Homo sapiens: one gene and its partner. The protein of the gene in region 1 interacts with the protein of each later gene in a pairwise test. Each region holds a gene or a part of one and is shown in the gene's direction. Other genes may lie near its edges.

Region 1 (8,312 bases):
AAAAGTTAAAGTAATAGAAGACAATTGCTTTATATCTGACTATCCTTGGACAATTACAACCAGCAGATAGTAAGTCTCAGTAATTTAGAGTTCACTTATACAGATTGTGATTATACCATTTCTACATTTTATATGCTAATACTTACCTTGTACTCCCTTTTAATGAGTGTTATATGGCCAATTAGTAATAAAATGAAATTAGTAGCATTCTTTCTTAAAAGGCAAATATATATTTTAGCACCTTGGAAATGCTTTAAACTTATTTAAATATAACCAGAGCTCAACACAGATTATACTTGTTCTTAAAAATGGTTACTCTGAAACTTATTCTTAAGTGCAAAATATCTGGCAAATATCTTTATTAACCTGATACAGTTTGTGTATTCTTAAAGTATAAGAAAACTGTGTCCTTCAAAATTTCTGTGAGTTTTGACATTCATCAGTTCTCTTCCCCTTTACCTAAATCTCCCAGTGAGATTTAACAAAACATTGATTTAACTGTATGCCACTTGTTAAATTTTAATATAAATATACAACTTTGGTTTTTATTATATATCTTCATTTTTTCTGCCTTCCCATTTATTTGGATGTATTTCATTAGTTTCCGAAATCTTTTTACGTGTATGTATTCCATCTGACGATAAAACATTAGGATTTTAAATCCTAAAAATCTCACAGATCCCAACTTTTTTCTTCCCATCCCTGAGCTCATTTTTTCCAGTTGTATAGTCTTCTAACTTGGTAAACCTCTTTCTACTTTCAATCTCCTCTTCTAGTCTGTACTCCACTCTTGTTATTCTTTCTTAAAACCATTTTATAAATAATTTCAAATCATATCACAATAAAATCCAAGCTCCTTAGCCTGTATACAGTTAAGATATATATGTTCATTATAAATATTCAATAGTAGCAAGACCCTAATCAGGAACCAATTGGCACAGTCATGGGCAGCCAAGAGCTATGAAGTGGCTTCTAAATAGTCTAGGCTTCTAAGTTTTTTTGGTCACTAGTCAAATAAATTGCTTGTTTTAAAATTATTCTCCATGTTACATGAGTGTTCTCAAATGTCTTCTATATATATACACGTAAAATAAGGCTTTGTTTTATAAAATGCAAATATAGAGTAATTAATTATAAATTGATTTCAAGTGAAGGTTTAACATGATGACTCAGTTGTGGCTTAAACATTAAATGTTTTTAAAATATGTATTTAAAATAAAAGGTATTATTTATTCTACTTAACCAAAGTTATCTTAGTGGCAGTCAAGATACATTAAAAGTGACATAACAAAGGAAACAGGAAATATATAATATAAAATTTATCAGATAAATCCTTAAAGACTGCTGTTAAATTACAAAAAAAATGGTGTACTTGCATTTCCTGTTATTTCTCTGTTTGATGATATGTGAGAAGAGATGAAGGAATGGTGGTAGTAGCAGGATTCAAAAGTCTTGATTTTATTCATATGCTTCAGATGCCCCTTTTTGGCCCTTTGAATTCTTTTTTGTATGGCCACTTTCTCATCAGAAAAAAAAATTATCTGAGCCCCCCTCCCCCATGTTTAGTGTTCATTGTTAACATCTAATCTTTAGTTTAATTGGAAGTTTAATCTTTAATTCAATTATATTTTCTTTTGAGGAACAACAGTCAGAAGTTTCTGGAATACTTCTGATTTTAGAACACAATTCCTAAATGAAATATCCAACAGTTTAAATTTACTTTGAAGGTAAAACCAAATTCAGAACCTTTATTGTGATTTTCTTAGTTGGATAATTATAGAAAGAAATCTATATATCTCCTAGATATCTGTGATTCAGGTGAGCAGCTGGAAGATGGCAGATGGTGAAGAACGGCACTCCCCTCCATTTATTCAGGGTGGAATTGTCACTTGAATAGGAAATATATGCATGCATCTTATTAGCAAAAATTTTTATATGGGTATATCCCAGTTAATAGAAATAAAATGATATATATGTATAAAGATGCATATAAAGAGCTGTTACTTATTGTGTGTGTGGATTTTTAGCCTTCTATCATTTTTCAACAACAACGCAGAATGATGATACATTTTTATGGTATTTTAAAAGGCTTCTGTCAAAGTCCACAACCTTTTAAAAAGGTAAACATGTAAAATAATGTGATCAAAAAAATATTTAAGATATGGTTTTGGTGGTGGGCAAGAGTCAGAGAGTATAAGCCAATTTAAAATGTCACTAAGTGGATTATTAGATGTCTGGAGAAGAATGATTTGATTTATCTTGCTTCTGCCAGCTCAGCCTCTGTTTTGTTAGCCCTGTTCTGGCCCTGAAATTTCTAATTTTGTCAAGTTCTGACTCCCAAAATATCATAAGTATGGAAATGAGTGAAATAACTTTTATTTTTTAAGTTTACAGCATTAGCAGTATTGAGAAAGTTGAGTTTTTCACAGGCTTATACTTGTAAAATGAAGCTAAAGTAATACTTAAACCATGAATGATACCATTCTTGTTTTTAAAATAATTATGAACAGGCATTTTTTGGGTAGGTCCAAGCCTACCCTGCTCTTCATTTTTGAAACATTCAAATTGGTTATTTAAAGGTATATTTAGCAGTGTATGCTGATACTGATTATACAAATTTGAATTTTGCCAAATCCATTTGTGTCTGTTTCAACTGTAGAGACAGAAAAATAATGGGCATGCACAGAGTAGTCATGATATTAATGACTAACCAATTATTTTCCTACTGTTGGACATGCGTGTCTGAAATCTTAAGACTTGCAACCATTTGAGTAGCTCTTCACAATTGTTCTCTATACCTTGCAGAGGAAAAAGGAAGAAAATTAATATTAAGCGCCACTTTGCCTGGGGCTTTTGATGTATATGTCATATGATCTTTATAGCAATTCTGTGAGGAAAGATGGTGATATCCCCTTTTTATAAGTCCACAGGCTCCACAGTTCAGATTTGCCTGTACACATGGCAAAAAAGTGACCAAATGCTATTCACCTCCAAGTCTGTCAGAGTCCGGAGCCTGGGCTCTTCGTTCACCATGCTGGACATTTTAGTTATGCTTTAATTTCAAGATATATTCAATTTTCTCATTTTTATACCCTTGGAATCTTGTCAGATTTCAATTTTTAAAAATTAGAAAATGGGCTATTTAATTAATATAAATTTAAAATATCCCCTTTTAACGTCAACAGTCATTGAATATGAATGGATTTGAGTACTCCAATGGTATTTTAGGATACTCAGTATATCTACTGGAAAAAAAATGACAAATTGAATAGCTATATCACTGTGAAGTAAGTTCTGTAATAAAAGTGAGAATAAAATGTGGTGGGAGCACGAAGTAAATGACAAATTTTCTATCCAGGAGTCTCTGCTGTGAGTCTGAACTCCCAGCACCTAGTGTAAAGCTGTACTCATCTATGGTAACTATAGGAGACAGAAATATGTCCAGCTAATGCTGCTTAAAGGCTTTCTGGTTTTCTTAGAAAACTGTGAATATTCATTCTAGACTTTTCTGTTGATAAAGAGAAGAAAGACTCTGAAGGGAGCTTTTGGGGGCTCAATAGATAGGAATTAGATTGGTAGTCCTTGCTCCTAAAAGGAAGAAGTTGCTTCTTTATTAAACTGTGTGATTTTTTTTGTTTGTTTGTTTTTGTTTTTTTTTTTTTGTTTTAACCAGAAAGAGACAGGTTTGTTCAGTTTGGTATTGAGCAATTCAGAAGTAAATGTTGAAGTACAGTGGAAGGGTTTAGAGTAGATAAAATTTAGATTATCTAAATCTTTACATCACATATCTGAAGCTTTATGTAACAAGTCTTATATGTTGATAAAATATAACTTTAATGCTATTTTTGGAAAACCATGTGACAGGAACAAAAAAAGTGTTATTAGATCCCTTATGTAATAAGCTGGACTATGTAGCCCTCAGCTCAATTTTATGTTTTGAGAGAAAAGAACACTTACTTATTGAAGCTGAGAAGAGAGCTCAGAAAAATAGAACTAAAGGTGTATTTTCTTGATTAACAATAGGATATGAGATTGGTCTTCTAATTGCATGTAGGATCTTTTTGCCATTGTCCATTTTGAATAAAAATATGTAGAAATTATAATTTATTTTGTAATTAACAGACTGAAAAGAAGTAGGCCTTCTGAAATTTGTGAGGTTAGTATCCTCTATTAGATGCAGCATATATAATTTTACACTCAATTACATAATGTAGTTGACCCTTGAACAACACAAGTTTGAACTGCATGGGTTCACTTATGCCAGATTTTTTTTCAATAAAAGTTTCAGTTGCCTCTCCTGCCTCCTATTCTACTTCCTTCACCTCTTCCACCTCTGCCACTTGAGACAGCAAGACCAACCCCTCCTCTTCCCCATCCTTCCCCTTCCCATCAGCCAATTCAATGTAAAGACAATGAGGATAAAGACCTTTATGATAATCTACTTCCACTTAATAGTAAATATATTTTCACTTTTTATGATTTTCTTAATAACATTTTCTTTTCTTTAGCTTACTTTATTGTAAGATCATAGTATGTAATATACATAACATACAAAATATGTGTCAATCTATAGTTCGTGTTATCAGTAAGGCCTCCAGAAAACACCAGGCTATTTAGTAGTTACGTTTTGGAGAAGTCAAAAGTTATATGTGGATTTTTGATTGTGTGTGGTGGTTGGCAACTCTAACCTGTTTTGCTTGAGGGTCAACTGTACTGTGTTGCCACAGGCCTCTCTGAATGGCTTGAATATGTGTAGATGACTTTGCAACTAATGGAAATAATGTATTTGTACAAAACTAATATGGGGTTTACACAAATATCAAATAACCAGTCTGCTACTTTCTCTTTGAGAGTTACATTTTATTTGAAGGAGAAAAATATATGATTTATTTTTAATTACATCTATAATGCCGTCTAAAGTTCAAACAGGAATCACATCAGTAAATAATGATTTTCCTATTTCTTTAGAAGTAGTAGTCATCCATTCAATAGCAGTCATAAAAAGATAAAAGCTGAAAGAAACCTCTCAAGCTTGAGCTGCCGTGAGAATTGGTTTCTTAGAAAAGTGTGTTGGGGATAAGAAAATGATAGCACACACTGTAACATGCTAAGTACTTTGAACTGAAGGATATTGGAAGACCCCCAGAAGCAAAGTATCCTTTCAACCTTCCCTTGCCCTTCTTTCTTCTGTTCCCCTTTCTCTCCCAAGGCAGACCATAGAAACTGGAACTTCTCTTCCCCCAACCATGTCATAGAAATTAGAACCCCACTTTTCCAAAGCCAGCCATAAACCTAGAAATATTATTCTAACCTTCCCCTGCCTTTCTATGTAGGAGCTGGCCATAAAGAAATTCTATGACCTACCTTGTCTAATAGTAGGTCATAAGACCCTCATTCCAAAAGGAGTTCTGCCCTATACCTTGAAGGAGGGGATGCTGTGTAGAAAGACCAGGAAGAATCTGAACATACAGACCTTGCTGGCTTTCCCCGCTCAGTCTGTTACCATTTGGTTATACACTTTTGTCCAATTACTCTCTATTCTTAGCTCTTAGCTCTCCATTCTTCATTGACGAAGCTTGAAAATACACAGTTTTCCCTTGAGTCTTCATTTCTGAAGCCTCCTGTGTCATGTAAAACTGACTAAATAAATTTGTTATGCTTTTCTCTTGTTAACCTGTCTTCTGTTATAGGAGTGTTGACCGTGAAACTTACAATGGGTGAGGAAAGGTATTAGACCTTTCTGCCCCTACAAGTGCAACTTAATACTGACCACATCTGATTACTTTGTTCTTTCTTCTTGATGTTCATCAGGAAAACTTTTTTTTTGTTTTATGATATGTCTGACACTCCAAGTAAAAATGATTCTTCTATTTCCAGTAAAGCAAACTAGTCAAGATGATTTTTTTATACTTAAGATCTGGATTGCATTGGTGGCATTCATTTTTTTTTTAATATGTCATATTAATTGGCAGTTTTTAACACTACATTAAGGTGATTGAAAGAGTGGGCTTTGGAGAGAGACCTAAGTTTCAGTACCATCTCTGACACTTACTAGCCATATGATCTTAGTCATTAGCTTTGGTTAATAATCTTTTAGAGAAAGTATTAATCATCAATTTTATGAAAGAACCTATCTCACCATAGTCTTTTATTTGCTTTCACAGATCAGTGTACTGTTACCCGGACATACCTATTCCTTCACAAGTTCTGGTTCTTCAGTGCTGCTTACTATTTTGGTAACTGGGCCTTTCTTGGGGTAAGTGCAGATATCCCACGCGTGATTTGACCTTCCTTTATAAATTATAGTTAAATGTGTAAACTCTTTTTATCTTACTAGGCCATTTGTATCATAGTACTGTCATTGAATTTTAAAGCATTACTTTCCAGATGATTTTAAATTTGAAAAATAACACATGGCTTATTTAAATTTACAGGTATTTTTGATTGGATTAATTGTATCCTGTTGTAAAGGGAAGAAATCGGTTATTGAAGGAGTAGATGAAGATTCAGACATAAGTGATGATGAGCCCTCTGTCTATTCTGCTTGACAGCCTTCTGTCTTAAAGGTTTTATAATGCTGACTGAATATCTGTTATGCATTTTTAAAGTATTAAACTAACATTAGGATTTGCTAACTAGCTTTCATCAAAAATGGGAGCATGGCTATAAGACAACTATATTTTATTATATGTTTTCTGAAGTAACATTGTATCATAGATTAACATTTTAAATTACCATAATCATGCTATGTAAATATAAGACTACTGGCTTTGTGAGGGAATGTTTGTGCAAAATTTTTTCCTCTAATGTATAATAGTGTTAAATTGATTAAAAATCTTCCAGAATTAATATTCCCTTTTGTCACTTTTTGAAAACATAATAAATCATCTGTATCTGTGCCTTAGGTTCTCCAGAGTGATGTGGAATTTTAAAGTGTCTCTCTCTGATTGCCTCCAAATAATATTTACAATATAGCTGATGAATGTTACTCCCATATGCAAATTGTTTTCAGTTTTCTGCATAAAATCTTTAGCACCACTCAAGTAGATTTCATGAAAAGATTTCAAACTCTAGTTAGTGCTCTAAGAGCATGGCGTTCCAAGATGTGTTATATTGTTCAAATATCAGTCCATTAGATAACTTACAACCTCTACAGTATTTAAGGCATACATATTGTTATAGGTAGCTTTTGTTTTGCATCTGACCTCAAAATGTGTATTTCAATATAAATAGGGGTATTGTCAAGAATAATTAATCCTGGAAAAAAAAATCAGTTTATGGATTAATTTAAGATATATGGCATCATATTTTGGTTTTAGAGATAATTTTTCATTCTAAAGATTTGAAATTTGCAAAAGATGTAATGAAAGCTGTATGACATCAGTAGGGTATTTTGAACACATTCTGGATAGTGAGAAATAATAAAAAATTATATTCTAGTTTACTAACATAAGCACATTAGAACTCATAAAAAAGTATATATCATGATCCTTGAGGTAAAATATCATTAAGTTTCTGAAAAAAAGTTTAGGAATTAACAACTATATCTAAGTTAATTATTCTCTCCCTTAATTTTTGTGCCATTTTTCTCTGTTCTGATTCTTCATCTCTCTTGATAAACCTTCACAGCTTTCGTATTTGGCTTCTGCTTCTGCAACTACCCTTTAGCATTATTCACCAGGATTTCATTCCCTTCTGTTCTTATTTTACATTTTCTTTTTTCTTTTTTTTTAAGATGGAGTTTCACTCTTGTCGCCCAGGCTGGAGTGCAATGGCACGATCTCAGCTCACTGCAACCTCCCCTTCATGCATTCAAGCAATTCTCCTGCCTCAGCCTCCTGAGTAGCTGGGATTACAGGCATGTGCCACCATGCCTGGCTAGTTTTTGTATTTTTAGCAGAGATGGGGTTTCACCATCTTGGCCAGGCTGGTCTTGAACTCCTGACCTCATGATCCACCCACAGTGGCCTCCCAAAGTGCTGGGATTACAGGCATAAGCCACCACGCTCGGCCTTATATTACATTTTCTTTGTGGACAATCTCACATACCCTTGGCTTCTATCTATACTACTTGTTCTTAAGCTCTGAACTTTGAGTTATCTTTTAGCTAGAAATTACTGCTTCAACTGTAACATTTTGAAAATTGAAGTATTCACTTTTGTGGGGGCAAACTAAGCCTTCTTCTGCATTCATTTTTTTGACAAATGGCACCGCAGACACTTGATTGCCTAAACAAAGAATCAGGTAGATCTCCATATCTCTTCTGTATAACTGACTCATCAAACAATCATGTCATGTTAATTTCTACTTCC
Region 2 (7,000 bases), about 35 Mb from region 1:
CACAGGTTGCTTCCAAATCTTGGCTATCATAAATAGTGCTGAAATAAACATGGGAGTGCAGATATCTCTTCGATAGATTGATTTCCTTTCTTTTGGGTATATACCCAGCAGTGGGATTGCTGGATCATGTGGTAGCTCTATTTTTAGGTTTTTGAGGAACCTCCAAACTATTCTCCATAGTGGCTGTACTAATTTACATTCCCACCAACAGTGTATGAGGGTTCCCTTTCCTCCACATCCTCACCAGCGTTTGTTATTGCCTGAGTTTTGGATAAAAGCCATTTTAACTGGGGTGAGATACAAAGTCATGACTTTACCTCTAAATATTTCATCATGTATCTAAGAACAGGGGCATTCTCCTGTGTAACTTTTCTACAGTAACCTTATTTTTCCTTTTTACATTTTCAAATCTTTTTACTATAGAAAAATTATACATTTATGAAATAGAATGACTAATACAATGAGCCCCCATTTATCCATCATCCAGCTTCAACAATGATCAACTCGTGGCCAATCTTTGTTCATCTACATCTCCTCCACATCTTGGAGCCAAATAATTTTCTGTGAAAAATCATGATGCTGCATCAAAAGAGAGTGATAAAATATGATTTATTGTATACGGCTGCATTTTATACACCACGTAATCATTGTAACTACCATATATACCTATTATGTGTGAATGCTATCAGCTGTACTATAGGTCTGCACTAAAAACTTAGAACAGTGGTTGCCAAATACCCATGCTGGTCTGTGACAAAATTCTTAGCACTATTTAGTGAAATGAAATCATAAAGATATTGTAATGAGTTTTCCTAAAGTTAATTCCATTTAAGGGACTGCTGTTTATTTTGACAATATTTCCTTTCTGGTTTTTTTCAGAGGTTAAGCTATCTTTTCTTTGATGAAATGATGATTTTGGTGGTGGTAGATGATTTTTATTTGCTTGTTTCACTGTCCATACTAGGCAAAACAAAAAGTTGGCAAGTTGTTTTCAGTTGCTTAAAATATTTTCAGAAATTTTATTAGTCTGTGAATTCCTAAAATCTGAGAACTACCGCTTTAGAAGACCAAATGACTTTGGCACTATTCAGTAACATCTGAGTATTATCTGTAGGGAGAGTTTAGCTTTCATCATGTATAGCATCAGAGACAGGAAAAGGAACGTGGAACCTTAATACTTAGATAAATGTTTATTTTTGCAAATTTCAAATTATTGTTTCTTTGCTGCTATAAATACGATTTTACTTTTTAAGAGAAAAGTTTTTCATCTGTTTCACTTCCTGCTTTTTTTTATAAACTAGCTATTTGTTAAAAACTTAGAACAGTGGTTGCCAAATACCCATGCTGGTCTGTGACAAAATTCTTAGCACTATTTAGTGAAATGAAATCATAAAGATATTGTAATGAGTTTTCCTAAAGTTAATTCCATTTAAGGGACTGCTGTTTATTTTGACAATATTTCCTTTCTGGTTTTTTTCAGAGGTTAAGCTATCTTTTCTTTGATGAAATGATGATTTTGGTGGTGGTAGATGATTTTTATTTGCTTGTTTCACTGTCCATACTAGGCAAAACAAAAAGTTGGCAAGTTGTTTTCAGTTGCTTAAAATATTTTCAGAAATTTTATTAGTCTGTGAATTCCTAAAATCTGAGAACTACCGCTTTAGAAGACCAAATGACTTTGGCACTATTCAGTAACATCTGAGTATTATCTGTAGGGAGAGTTTAGCTTTCATCATGTATAGCATCAGAGACAGGAAAAGGAACGTGGAACCTTAATACTTAGATGAATGTTTATTTTTGCAAATTTCAAATTATTGTTTCTTTGCTGCTATAAATACGATTTTACTTTTTAAGAGAAAAGTTTTTCATCTGTTTCACTTCCTGCTTTTTTTTATAAACTAGCTATTTGTCCTGCCTTCCCCCAGTGTTAGACTACTATTCTGAAAGTTTCTAGCACTGTCGTGGGGCATAGAGTGCAGAAAACATAAATCACTAGAATAGTTGGGTGAGTCTGTGTAAGACCAGTTTGATTAATCTAAATTTGGGGCCTACTAGATTGAGTGAATCTCTGAATAAAATAGAAATTCAGACTTGCATGGGCTCATTGTTGTCCACCATCAGTTCTTTCTGTCACAGGTCTGACAGAAACCGTTAATGAAGTTTCCAAGCTGAGCAACAAGATTGGGATGAATTGTGATTACTACATGGAAGAGAAGGTTTTACCTCCAAGCAGGTATAGACTCTTCTTCTTTCTTCATGTTGCTCATCCTGGCTTAGGTACTTAGCACTGATGGCTTCAGATCAGACTTGAAGCATTTTTATTTAATGATACAATGAGTATTTAAACTTGAGAGGTCTCAACAACTTAAACAGAAGAGTACTAAGTTGTAATTATTAGTACCAAAGAAGGCCAAGAAGCAAATGTTACTTAGTCAACAAATAAACCAAAGCAACACTTGTTGGAATAAATATGGTGGATTTCAGATCTCTGACAAACTTGGAGGAAGCAGCCTGTAGTACTATCTGCTGCTGCATAACAAATTACCCCAAAATTTAGCAGCTTAAAATAACATTTCATTTTTCCGTTTTGGTTGTTTTTATTTTTTTGGAGGCAGGGTCTCACTCTGTTACCTAGGCAGGTATGCAGTAGTATGGTCATGGCCTCCTGGGCTCAAGTGATCCTCCTACCTCATTTTTCGATTTTTTTTTTTTTTTTTTTAGAGATGGGGTCTCACTGTGTTGCCCAGGGTTGTCTTGAACTCCTAGGCTCAAGCAGTCCTCCCACCTCAGCTTCCCAAAGTGCTGGGATTACAGGCATGAGCCACTGTGCCCAGCAAAATAATATTCATTATGTCACAGTTTCTGTGGATGAGAGATATGGGCATGGTTTAACTGTATACCTCGGGCTTATAGTCTTTCATGAGTTGTAGTCAGTCTGCTGACTCTTGGCCAGAGGCTCCCTCAATTTGCCACATGGAATTTACTATAGGGCAGCTATATATAATGTACTATATATTATATACTAAACATGGTGTATATATGTATACTAAACATGGCAGCTGGCTTTCCTCCAAGGGAGAGAACAAGAGTGTGTGTGAGAGATGGTGCCCATGACAGAAGCCAGTCTTTTTGTTACCTGATCTCAGAAGTGACATCCCATTGTTTCTGCTACATTCTTTTTTTTTTTTTTTTGAGATGGAGTTTTGCTCTTGTTGCCCAGGCTGGAGTGCAATGGCGCGATCTCGGCTCACTGCAACCTCTGCCTCCCAGGTTCAAGCAATTATCCTGCCTCAGCCTCCCAAGTAGCTGGGATTACAGGCATGCACCACCACGCCTAGCTAATTTTGTATTTTTAGTGGAGATGGGGTTTCTCCATGTTGGTCAGTCTGGTCTCGAACACCCAACCTCAGGTGATCCGCCTTGTCCTCCCAAAGTGCTGGCATTACAGGCGTGAGCCACCGTACCCGGCCCGCTTCTGCTACATTCTGTTTGCTATAAATGAGTCATTACATCCTGCCCACCCTCAAGGGAAGAGGTTTCCACAAAGATGTGAATACAGTTGGCCCTTATATCTGTGGGCTCTGCATCCCGTGAATTCAACCAAGTGCATATAGAAAATATTAGAAAAATAAAAAATAACACAATAATAAAAAATACAAAATAATACAAAATTAAAAACCAATATGGTATAACAACTACTTACATAGCGTTTACATTGAATTAGATATTTAAGTAATCTAGGGATGATTTAAAGTTTATGGGGCCAGGCGCAGTGGCTCACGCCTGTAATCCTAGCACTTTGGGAGGCAAAGGCGGGTGGATCACGAGGTCAAGAGATCAAGACCATCCTGGCCAACATGGTGAAACCCTGTCTCTACTGAGAATACAAAAATTAGCCAGGCATGGTGGTGCGAGCCTGTAGTCTCAGCTACTCAGGAGGCTGAGGCAGGAGAATTGCTTGAACCCAGGAGGCAGAGGTTGCAGTGAGCCAAGATCACGCCACTGCACTCCAGCCTGTTTTGAGACTCCATCTCAAAACAAAACCAAAAAAAAAAAAAAAAAAAAAGCTTATGGGTGGATGTGCATAGGTTATATGCGATACTATGCCATTTTGTATCAGGGACTTGAGCATCCATGAATTTCCGAGGGGGATCCTGGAACCAATCCCTCTTGGATACCAAGGGATGACTGTATCAGGAAGCAGAGATCTTTGGGGTTATCTTGTCAGCTGCCTACCATATAGCTCCTATCAGCTACCCTTTTAAGTGGCTTCATACTAAACAGGCACAGATAAAGATTTTCTGTTAGTGGTGTTTTGACTCTTGGGATTTTTTTTCCCCCAGCTTCATAACTCAGCTTATTTATCAAAATCTGAACACTGTTGATAAAGAATGCTTCCATACCCACACCAGGCTTTATTTGTATTATTCTTAGTTATATTGACATTGTGGTAAAGAAGAACCATTCAGTAAGTATGAATTGAATTGGCTCTGCTGGTTTATTGACAATTAAGTGGGTAAATTTCAGTGTCAGATTTTTTTTTTTTTCTGAGATGAAATCTCGCTTTGTCGCCAAGCTGGGGTGTGCAGTGGCGCGATCTCAGCTTGCTGCAACCTCAGCCTCCCGGGTTCAAGCGATTCTCTTGCCTCAGCCTCCTGAGTAGCTGGGACTACAGGTGTGCGCCACCATGCCCAGTTAATTTTTGTATTTTTAGCAGAGGTGGGGTTTCACCATGTTGGCCAGGGTGGTCTCGATCTCTTGACCTCGTGATCCACCCGCCTTGGCCTCCCAAAGTGCCAGGATTACAGGCGTGAGCCACCACACCTGGCCCAGATTTTATATTTTAAAACAGTTCTTGGTCAGGCACAGTGGCTCATGCCTGTAATCCCGGCACTTTGGGAGGCTGAGGTGGGAGGATCGCTTGAGGTCAAGAGTTCAAGACTAACCTGGGCAACATAGTGAGACCTCGTCTCTACAAAAAAAAATTTTTTTTTAATTAGCAAAATGTGGTGGTGCACGCCTGTAGTCCTAGCTATGCAGGAGACTGGGGTGGAAGGATTACTTGAGCCTGGGAGGTCAAGGCTGCAGTAAGCTGTGATAGTGCTACTGCACTCCAGCCCAGGCAACAGAGCAAGACTCTGTCTCTAAAAAAAAAGATTGTAAATATTGTATCACAGATGAGGCTGAGAAAAGAAAAAACAATTGAAAAATAAAATTGTTCTAATTTTCCACCAAAAGACAAATAATAACAACTCGTGATTCATTTGCGTCCTTAAATGCTTTTGTCAGAGGGCCATTGTGGGGTATCTGTTACTAAAGGGCCTTTCTCCATCACATGTTGCTCCTCTGGTCTTCATGCTTCTTTGATTTGTTCTTGACTGATGTTAGCAAGTTTCCATGCTGGGAACAGGTTTTCACCAAACTCAGGTCTCTCAGCTTCTCTCTCACTGTTTAGAGATGTTTGTTGCTCACAGGGGAGGAGAGAAAACTGAAACTGGGAGAATGAGGTCTGTGATAGGGTGGTGGTGAGGGAGTTGCAGGCGTATGGAGGGATAGAGGGGTATGGCAGGTAGAAGAAACGAGAGAGGGAGAAATGAAGCCGGAGAAATAGTAGTATTCAGAACTGGGTTTCCAGGTATGGTGATATAAAAAATTATGTCGGGAAAAAGGCTGAAATTGTTTGAGGTTACTCATTATTGGCAGTTGGCTTTACCTTAGGTTCATAGGATGATGTTAATTACAGTTGTAGGCTCCTAAGGGAAATTTCATTCTCAGATATTCATTTACCAGGCATTTATTGAGTCCTTATTATGTCACAGGCAAAATGCTGGGTGCTAAGGATAGAGATATAGATAAGGCAGTTTTTGCTGTCAAGAAACTTTTGTAGGGGAGACAGTTGAATAATAGAAAATGACTGATTAGACTGATAAGTTCACTTGTAGCTATGCATATATAGAGTTTAATGAGAGTGTTCAGCTACCTGTGGAAGATCAGGGAAGATTTGCCTACAGAGGAAGGTTAGGCCTATGAAGACTTGAGTCTTGGATGTTGAATAAGTGCTTTCCAGGTGGTCTTGGTGTGAAAGGTTGCACCAGGTAGTGGTGACAACATGTCAGAGGCAGAGAATGGTGGTAGAACATGGTATGTTCTTTACAAGCGACTTGCAATGGCTGAGCCCAAGGTGTTACAAGGTAGAAGAAAATACATTGGAAAGAGAGGCCAGAGCAGTATGATATAAGGTAACATAAGCCATTTATCTTGCTGGTGATGGGGGAGCCCCCGAAGGACTTTAAATAAGCATTACATCATGTTGAATATGGCATCTGAGAAACAGCATTGTTTTTAGAGTGAATTGGTGGCAGTGTGGAAAACAGATTATAAAGGAACAAGACTAGAGGCAGGGAGACTAGTTAATTGTAAGAGATGATGGTAGGAGGGGGCCAGGCACGGTGGTTCATCCCTGTAATCCCAGCATTTTGGGAGGCCGAGGCGAGTGGATCACTTGCAACTAGGAGTTGGAGACCAGCCTGGCCAACATGGCAAAACTCTGTCTGTACTAAACATTTTTTAAAAATGAGGCAGCTGTAAACCCCGCTGCTCAGGAGGACTTTTCCAGGAAGTCATATTGTTGGAATCATACAGTATGGACCCTGTTCCGATTAGTTGTTTCACTTAGTAATTTCATTTAAGTTTCCTTTATGTTTTTTTGTGGCTTGATGGCTTATTTTTCTTTTCTTTTTCATTGTGTTTTTTTGTTTGTTTGTTTGTTTTTGAGATGGAGTTTTGCTGTGTCACCCAGGCTGGAGTGCGGTGGCACAATCTCGGCTCACTGCAACCTCCGCCTCTCAGTTTCAAGTGATTCTCCTGCCTCAGCCTCCCAAGTAGCTGGGATTATAGGTGTGTGCCACCACACCCTGCTAATATTTGTATTTTTAGCAGAGACAGGGTTTTGCCATATTGGCCAGGCCGGTCTCGAACTCCTGGCCTCAGGTGATCCGCC

The links. Proteins that work in one complex are often made in the same cells at the same time.
Region 2: the proteins of LMBRD1 (region 1) and TCP11 interact in binary tests that used the Homo sapiens proteins (3 or more experiments, as listed by UniProt).

Annotation. Positions count from the first base shown.
Region 1 is NC_000006.12:69,674,394-69,682,705, reverse strand, and holds part of LMBRD1 (lysosomal cobalamin transport escort protein LMBD1), read left to right. Parts: intron 1-6,164; coding exon 6,165-6,256; intron 6,257-6,434; coding exon 6,435-6,548; 3' UTR 6,549-8,312. UniProt on the Homo sapiens protein: Lysosomal membrane chaperone required to export cobalamin (vitamin B12) from the lysosome to the cytosol, allowing its conversion to cofactors. Targets ABCD4 transporter from the endoplasmic reticulum to the lysosome.
Region 2 is NC_000006.12:35,131,340-35,138,339, reverse strand, and holds part of TCP11 (T-complex protein 11 homolog), read left to right. Parts: intron 1-487; exon of another isoform or gene 488-573; coding exon of another isoform or gene 574-649; intron 650-2,121; coding exon 2,122-2,233; intron 2,234-7,000. UniProt on the Homo sapiens protein: Plays a role in the process of sperm capacitation and acrosome reactions. Probable receptor for the putative fertilization-promoting peptide (FPP) at the sperm membrane that may modulate the activity of the adenylyl cyclase cAMP pathway.